Homo sapiens: one gene and its partner. The protein of the gene in region 2 interacts with the protein of the main gene of each other region in a pairwise test. Each region holds a gene or a part of one and is shown on either strand. Other genes may lie near its edges. The genes, in order: UPF1 and SMG7.

Region 1 (3,815 bases), on a different chromosome or scaffold from region 2:
AGGCATGCTGGAAGCACATGCAGGTCAGCAGGGTGCCTGAGTTCTGTACATGTCACCCGCAGAAGCTCAGGGACCAACTGGGAGGGATGGACTCGACACACACCTGTCCATGTTCCTGATCTGGTTGTGCAGGGCCAGAAAAGACACCGGGGAGTCGATGGCCTCACGGCTCTTGGCGCAGAGGCGCACGACCTTTAGCCCCGTCTGGTGGATCTTCTCCGTTAGCTGGTCCACGGCGATGTTGCTCGGAGCACACACCAGCACCGGCCTGCAACACCATTGGGGCAGCTCAGTGCTTACCCAGAGGAAGCTCGGTGAACGTAGTAAGCCAAGACTCTGTTTTTTGAGACAGGGTCTTGCTCTGTTGCCCAGGCTGGAGTGCAGTGGTGTGATCTCAGCTAATTGCAGCCTCAACATCCTGGGCTCAAGCAATCCTCCCACCTCAGCCTCCTGAGTAGCTGGGACCACAGGTGCACGCCACTACCCCCAGCTAATTTCTGAATTTTTTTTTTGTAGAGACGTCTCACCCTGTTCAGGCTGGCCTTAAACTCCTGACATTTTTAACAGGCAGTAATGACACGATGCCGAAGGAGCTCAGATCCAGACAGCCCAGGCTTCACAGCTCTACCCACCGCAAGCAATGCCAAGGCTGGAACTTGCACCATCCCGCCACACTATAAAGTGCCGCACACGGAACTCACGCTGCTGCAGCCATGCCCCCCCTGCCCCCAGTTTTCTAAACCAGTAGCAGACCTGGTTACTAAAATGCAATCCTAAGGTTGGAGCTGACACGAATAATGTCACATAGAGAGCGGTAGGCACCATGGCGACACTACCCGCCACGTGCTCTCTTCGGTGTGACAGAGCCCAAGGCTCCCAGCACCAGGCCTTCCATCTGGCCACCCTAAAGCCCTCCCGGGTCTTGCCCGCAAGGGCCGTGTCAGCCCTACCCGTTGCCTTGCCGGGCCAGGTGGTAGACGATGGTGGCCGACGTCACCGTCTTCCCCGTGCCTGGCGGGCCCTGGATCAGGCTCAGTGGTCTTTGCAGCACAGTCTTCACGGCATAAACCTTCAATACAAGCGGCCGTTAGGGGCAGCCTCCGCTTGCGTCCCGGCCCATGGGCGAGGCCCCGCGCGCTGAGGACGGCGCGCACCTGGGAGTGGTTGAGGTCGGGGAGGCCCTGCGCCGTGAAGCGCTTGGGCAGCTGGCACTTGATGATTACGTCCTCCACCTCGTGGCCCAACAGCTTGTGGTAGATGTAGCCAGACACCGAGGTCTCATCCACGGCAAACGTTTTCAATGCGCTCTGCATCCTGTGAGGAGGGTTTGGGGTTGGCGACACGCACAGCTGTGGCCGCCTCTCCGACATCCTGAGTTTGCAGAGCTGGGTGGGGAACCCCACTCCACAGTGACGGGGAGGGCTCATAAAGATGCCACAGGTGGCAACCAGGGAACAGGGGGCAGTGATGGGAGAAGACGTACCTGTCAAAGGAGGTCGACTTCCACACAAAATCCACCTGGAAGTTGTGAGTCACCTCCACAGGTGCACCCACGCTGCTCCGCAGCTCAATGGCGATCTCATCGCCATAATCTGTGTGCTGAGTTAAGTTTGCATCCTTGTCAAAAGCCGGGCTGACCTTTCTGGGCCACCCTTGGTACACGCTCTTTAAACAGCGTTTTTAAAATTTAGTTACTTAAGACACCGCTGGCTCTGCACCAAACGCTAAAAACGTGCAGCCAACACCAGACCAGAGACCAGAAGGACAGCATCCTTGAAGAAAGACTCTACCTCACCATGAGCCGGTGTCCCACCCCCAGCCAGCCTGGAGTTCCTCCTTGCCACTCCCAGCCACCCATCTAGGCCCCTTTCAGAGACGCAGAGGGCGGCAGCGAAGCCAGCAGCGCTCACCAGCAGGGAGCAGCCACATCCTGGGCCCCAGGACCTCACCGGGAGCTCCTGCACATGTGGCCAGCAGGGGCAGGCAGAGCTCGCAGAACCCAGCTTTGGCCACAGCAGCTCTTCTCACAGTTCCACAGAAACAACACCCCTCCCAGTACGGCCAAGCAAAAGGCTCCACATACACAAGCAAACTGCCCTCCAGGAGGCTGTGGCCGGTAGGCAACACCCTTCCCTCGACCCCGAGCCCCAAAACCGGTCTCACGTGTTCAGGATGAGCTTGTCAGGCCCAGGGTGGGTGTGGGAGACAACTCTCCCTACCCCTGTGGAGGCCACCGCTGAATGGTCAGGCCCCAGCAGCATTGGCCAGTCACCAAGAGGCAGCCTGAGTCTGACCCGCGGTGTCTTCTCCCAGGACTCCTCCCCACCCAAGCCTCTGACTGCACCTGTGCCTTACAGCTGCCCCACTCTGGCCGGCAGGCTGCATCACCATGAGGTCACTGCACATTCCCAAACATGGCCTGGGAGCAAGTGTGTGCTCAGAGGGTCTGCATGTGACCACTGGCTTCTGGAACCTCCGTGTGCAGAGTCAGCGTCCAGGTAAGGCGCTCCTGCAGCCACATTAACCTCCAGAGTCAGTCCAGGGACGTGCCACACAAGCGGCATACATTAACTTCCAGAGTCAGCCCAGGGACGCGCCACACAAGTGGCATCACCAACATCACCATTCGGGCAGAGGGGAAGCAACCATACAACCAGCTGTCCCCTGAAGGTGAAGGCCCTGTGATTCTCCTAAGAGCAGTGGAGGGCGATGCCAACCAGCACCCACCACAGAGCATGAGATGCTGGCCCAGCAGTGAGCATCAAATCCACAGTGGCCTCCACCTGATGCCCCCACTTTCCTCTCCCACCAGCCGGCCACACCCTCTTCACATGAAGGATACTATCAGGGACCTTGATGACGTGGCCGATCCCTTTCCACAGGGGCGCAAGGTCCCCTTTGTACCGCAGGCATATCTCATCCCCCTGCATGAGCCGCATGTCTTGAGGTAAAAAAGTGAGAGAGGTGGCCATTTTAACCCACGCCGTCGCTTCCACCAGGGAGAGTTCAAATTAAGGGGCACTTTACAAGGGTGGAACTAGGAATTTATGCTACTTATGGTCACAAATATTTTAAAACTTAAAATCACCTCTTAACCAAATTATGACTAAATCCTCATTACCAGAGTCAGTCTTGGGCAAAGTGAAGTAGGCGATTCTCTTCTTGTTAAGGCCCAGGTCCCACCTGACAGTGATGTTATCTTGAGTCTGAGCACATGAAAAACAAGAGCCCCGGTTAGCCTCCAGCACAGGCCCGGGCCTGGCCTCCACATGCCCGAGGCCCCATGAGGCGGGCCCTACAGCAAGCCTCTGCCGTGAGAGCAGGCGCCGTGAGTGGCACCTGCAGCCCCAAATGCCACCAAGGGCACATCTGAAAGAGAAGCCATTAGGAGTCCCCGGAACACACACAGGCCAATCCCGTCTGGAGGCTTCACCGCACACCAGAGGCCTCCGTGGCCAGGGAGCAGCTGCTGTGGGAGGGAGGAAGAGAGAGAGGAGGGGAGGGAGGGACAGAAAGAGGAGGGGAGGGAGGGACAGAAAGAGGAGGGGAGGGAGGGAGGGGAGGTCAGCGCTCCAGGGCTCCCGTTGCCTAAATGTGGTCTTCACAGGGATCACGCCCGAGTCTAACTCTCGCAACTGTGGGCAAAGCTGTGGACCCCACTGGGAAAGATGTGTTGGATTTAAACAGAAAACACTGAGGCTGATGTCAGATCTGAGGGCGGGGGCTCAGACCACCGGGCTGCCAGGCCCGGATCCGCAAGTTCCAACTCTCAGGTGTCGCGGCTGCAGCCCACATCAGCTCCCACAGCCTGGAGA
Region 2 (3,815 bases):
CAACATTTTAATTAAAATGTTTGCAAATTTTGATTTTGACCCTTTAGCGACACCACTTCCAGAGGAGTTTGAATTACAAGGATTTTTGGCATTGAGACCTTCTTTCAGGTAGGTGATAGCTGAAGTACCTTTATCATTGCCAGTGATTGCAGTATTAAAATTAGCAGAGAATTGGGCTTGGATGTAGAGGAACCTTTGATCTGTCCCAGCTGTGTGTTATTTTTGTAACGTCAACTAATACTGAAAGTTGTTGTGAATTGGATTTGTGTATGTCACGCCTTCAATTCCTGTGTAATAAAAATTAAAATGTAACCTTTCCATCTGTGCCCTTGATCCCATCCCTTCTCACCTCCCTAAGAACCTTGCTCCATCTGTTATCCTCTCTGCATTGTATTTCCAGTGTCTTGTCTTTCTTTCCTTTCTTTTTTAAACAACTAATTATCTTTAGCCTAGTAACATTTAAGTGTGCCCCATTCTTTTAAAAAGGTAAAATGAATTTACATCCCTCTATTTTCCTACGTTGCCTTATCTTTTCATCATCAAACTTCTTAAAAAGAGTAGTATGCACTTTGGGAGGCGGAGGCAGGTGAATCATGAGGTCAGGAGATCGAGACCATCCTGGCTAACCCGGTGAAACCCCGTCTCTACTAAAAATACAAAAAAAAAAATTAGCCGGGCATGGTGGCGGGTGCCTATAGTCCCAGCTACCCAGGAAGCTGAGGCAGGAGAATCGCTTGAACCCAGGAGGCAGAGGCTGCAGTGAGCTGAGAGATCACGCCACTGCACTCCAGCCTGGGTGACAGAGTGAGACTCCGTCTCAAAAAAAAAAGAGTAGCGTGGGCCAACCTGACTGACTCCACTTCAACTCCTGATCATTTTCAGCCTACTGTGGTTTAAACTATCAGTGCCTTCTAGATACCAAAATCCAGTGACTATAGTCTTTATCCTATTGAATTTTCTTCAGCATTGAGTCCGTCGATTTCCTTCCTTCATGAAACCTTTTTCCTTAGCTCTGTGATGCAATTTTTCCCACCCTTAGCACTCAGTCTTTTTCACTATTTCTTTTAAACTACATGCCTCTGAATGTTGTTGTTTTCCAGGATTCTTTTCTTGCCCTTTCCTTCTCACTTTGTACATTCACCCTGTTAATCAAATCCATCCCTATGTCTCTTGAATGGTATGTCCCAAATTTTCAGCTTTGACTTCTCTTGAAGTTTGGATGCATATTCTAACAATCTGACCTCCCTTACGCATTTTAAACTTTAACGTGACCAAAAACTGAGCTTATATTTTCCGATTTGGTCAGCCAAAAAGCAATCTTCTTTCTCTATTTTCTGTCTGTGCCTGTGGCATTACCCATCTATATGACCAAGCTAGAAATCTGAAAAACCCTTGTTTCTATTTGTCTTTCTCACCAAGCCTTTATAATTATGTGTCTGAAATGCTTCTTAGGTTCAAGTCCTTCCGTTTATTTCCCTATACATAGTTCAGGCTTTTCTCACCAGTTTACCTGAAGTATAAAAACCTTCCTACGTATAGTTCTTCTCCTCCTATAGTCTGTTTCTACACTGCCTATAGTTTTTAAGTATGGAAATAGTGATGTTGCATGACTAATATTTTTATTTACCCATTCCCAGTTGCTCCACTGTCTCTTTTAGCTTGATGCTCAAGTTCCAGCACTATCCAGCTCCTAGTTGTTCAGCCTTATTTTCTTCCATTTCCCCCAGTATTTATAAACTCTATACACTATGTGCTATACTTGAATAGCTCACTATTTTTATTCCTCCACACCTTTGTTCATGTTGTGCCTAGAACATTTCCTTCTCCTCTACTGCCCTTCCATCACCAGCCTGGTAAGCACTTAGCCATACCTGTCAAGGTCCAGCTCAGGTATCACTCTATGAAACCTTTCAGAGCTTCTCAGAAGGAACTCATCCTCCTTTTACTATATTCACTTAATTCTTTACATAGTTCTTATTATGCTTATCAGATTGAATCATAATTATTTATTCCCAAAGGTAGGGACTCTTATTTATCTTTGTGTCCTCAGCATCTAGCCTTCTGCCTGGCAATTCTTAAATCTTCTTAAAAAAAAAAAAAGTTTAATAAGGAGAAATCTGAAAAATCTTTATTTTTTCAGGTTGGTTTACCCTTCTGATATCAATGAGTTATTCTATATGCTTTACGATATTTATACATTTTTCTGATTTAGAATGGTCCACCACAAAGTGGATAGATTAATATTATTTATTAAAATAGGCACCTCAGAGACTCTTAGCATTGCCATGGTCATTTCAAGCAAATTACTTGGCATGCAAGATAAATGTTTATAAAACTTTATTCTTAAAATGATAAAAGAATCTTTCCTAATAAAAAGTTGTGGTTTATTTGAGCTCCCTGACTAGAAAGTGAAATGTGAGTAAAAATATTACATTAATGTAATGAATTTGTATATTTTCTTTTCTGCTTTGTTTCATAGTTTGTAAAAATCTCTGGTAGTATAAATTCTAATAAATGCAGTTGATTACATCAAGTAGCTAACCTATGTGGGAAGTAATCTGAAGCCATTACAGTTAATCAGGTGAACTTGGTTGCCTGGAAAATATCTTTAGCAATTTAATATTCTCATAACTTGCTTGTGTCAATTTTAGGAACTTGGATTTTTCCAAAGGTCACCAGGGTATTACAGGGGACAAAGAAGGCCAGCAACGACGAATACGACAGCAACGCTTGATCTCTATAGGCAAATGGATTGCTGATAATCAGCCAAGGTAAGTCTGGAACTTCTGGTCTACCCCTTTTTAACCACCTTTTTAGATAAACACATGCGCGCACACGCGCGCGCACACACACACATCTCATATGTTACGTATTTTAGGCTTTGGTATAAATATTGTCAATCATGAACTCTTAAATCGACATGTTGGTAGCACAACATCTAATTATAACCCTAGTGAGTAAGTATACTCTTTATTTAGAATCTCTGTTCTCCCTATTGTGTATTACAGAGGTCTTTCTTGTTTATCGTGAGTTTCTGCTCTAATTTATAAATATCTCTGTAAATCTAACTGAACTGTACTTTCACAGTCATGGTAATTTGTATTGGCCTGGGCATGGTAGTCAGTTTCAGGCAGGACAGACCAAGATCGTGCTAGTAGCCAGTTAAGTACAAAGCAGATGTGGTCGTTAGTGTAGGGAAAAGAACGCAGGTTTTGTAATTCCATTGGTTTGAGTTCCGTTTCGAGTTCCGCAGCTTCTCAAGTGGGTGTCCTTGGGATCTCCCCAGTAGATTATAACCTTTCCAAAGTCACTAACTACTTCCTCATTTTTGTATTCAGGTTTCTGTCATACAGTAGGTAGTTAAATGCTTCCATGTTTGAATGAACTTACCACCTCCAAGCTTCAATTTTCACATCTATAGAATAGGAATTATATATAGCTACCTTATAGGACATATCAAGGGCCCTAGACCAGTGTCTTGCACTTGAAGCATGCTCAGAAAATGTAAATTCTAGCAAACGTTGAAAGAGCCAGAGGGATAGGTTGTGACGATGTTAAGTGTGATAATGAGAACCTCAGTTTCTACATAACTACTTTTTGTGTTACCTGAATCCACATTGTTATATCCTGCTGTTTTCATGGTTATTAGTGCTAGGAATATATTGACTTGGATCCACACACAATTCAGTTGTTATTTTTTAAGTTAATGTTTTTTATATATGGATTTATTTTTGCTTTTTTAGGCTGATTCAGTGTGAAAATGAGGTAGGGAAATTGTTGTTTATCACAGAAATCCCAGAATTAATACTGGAAGA

Evidence for each region.
Region 1: the proteins of SMG7 (region 2) and UPF1 interact in binary tests that used the Homo sapiens proteins (3 or more experiments, as listed by UniProt).

The regions. Positions count from the first base shown.
Region 1 is NC_000019.10:18,852,378-18,856,192, reverse strand, and holds part of UPF1 (regulator of nonsense transcripts 1), read right to left. Parts: intron 3,207-3,815; coding exon 3,122-3,206; coding exon of another isoform or gene 3,089-3,121; intron 2,942-3,088; coding exon 2,843-2,941; intron 1,617-2,842; coding exon of another isoform or gene 1,593-1,616; coding exon 1,484-1,592; intron 1,315-1,483; coding exon 1,155-1,314; intron 1,070-1,154; coding exon 951-1,069; intron 269-950; coding exon 104-268; intron 8-103; coding exon 1-7. UniProt on the Homo sapiens protein: RNA-dependent helicase required for nonsense-mediated decay (NMD) of aberrant mRNAs containing premature stop codons and modulates the expression level of normal mRNAs.
Region 2 is NC_000001.11:183,538,333-183,542,147, forward strand, and holds part of SMG7 (nonsense-mediated mRNA decay factor SMG7), read left to right. Parts: intron 1-47; coding exon 48-108; intron 109-2,651; coding exon 2,652-2,771; intron 2,772-3,743; coding exon 3,744-3,815. UniProt on the Homo sapiens protein: Plays a role in nonsense-mediated mRNA decay. Recruits UPF1 to cytoplasmic mRNA decay bodies.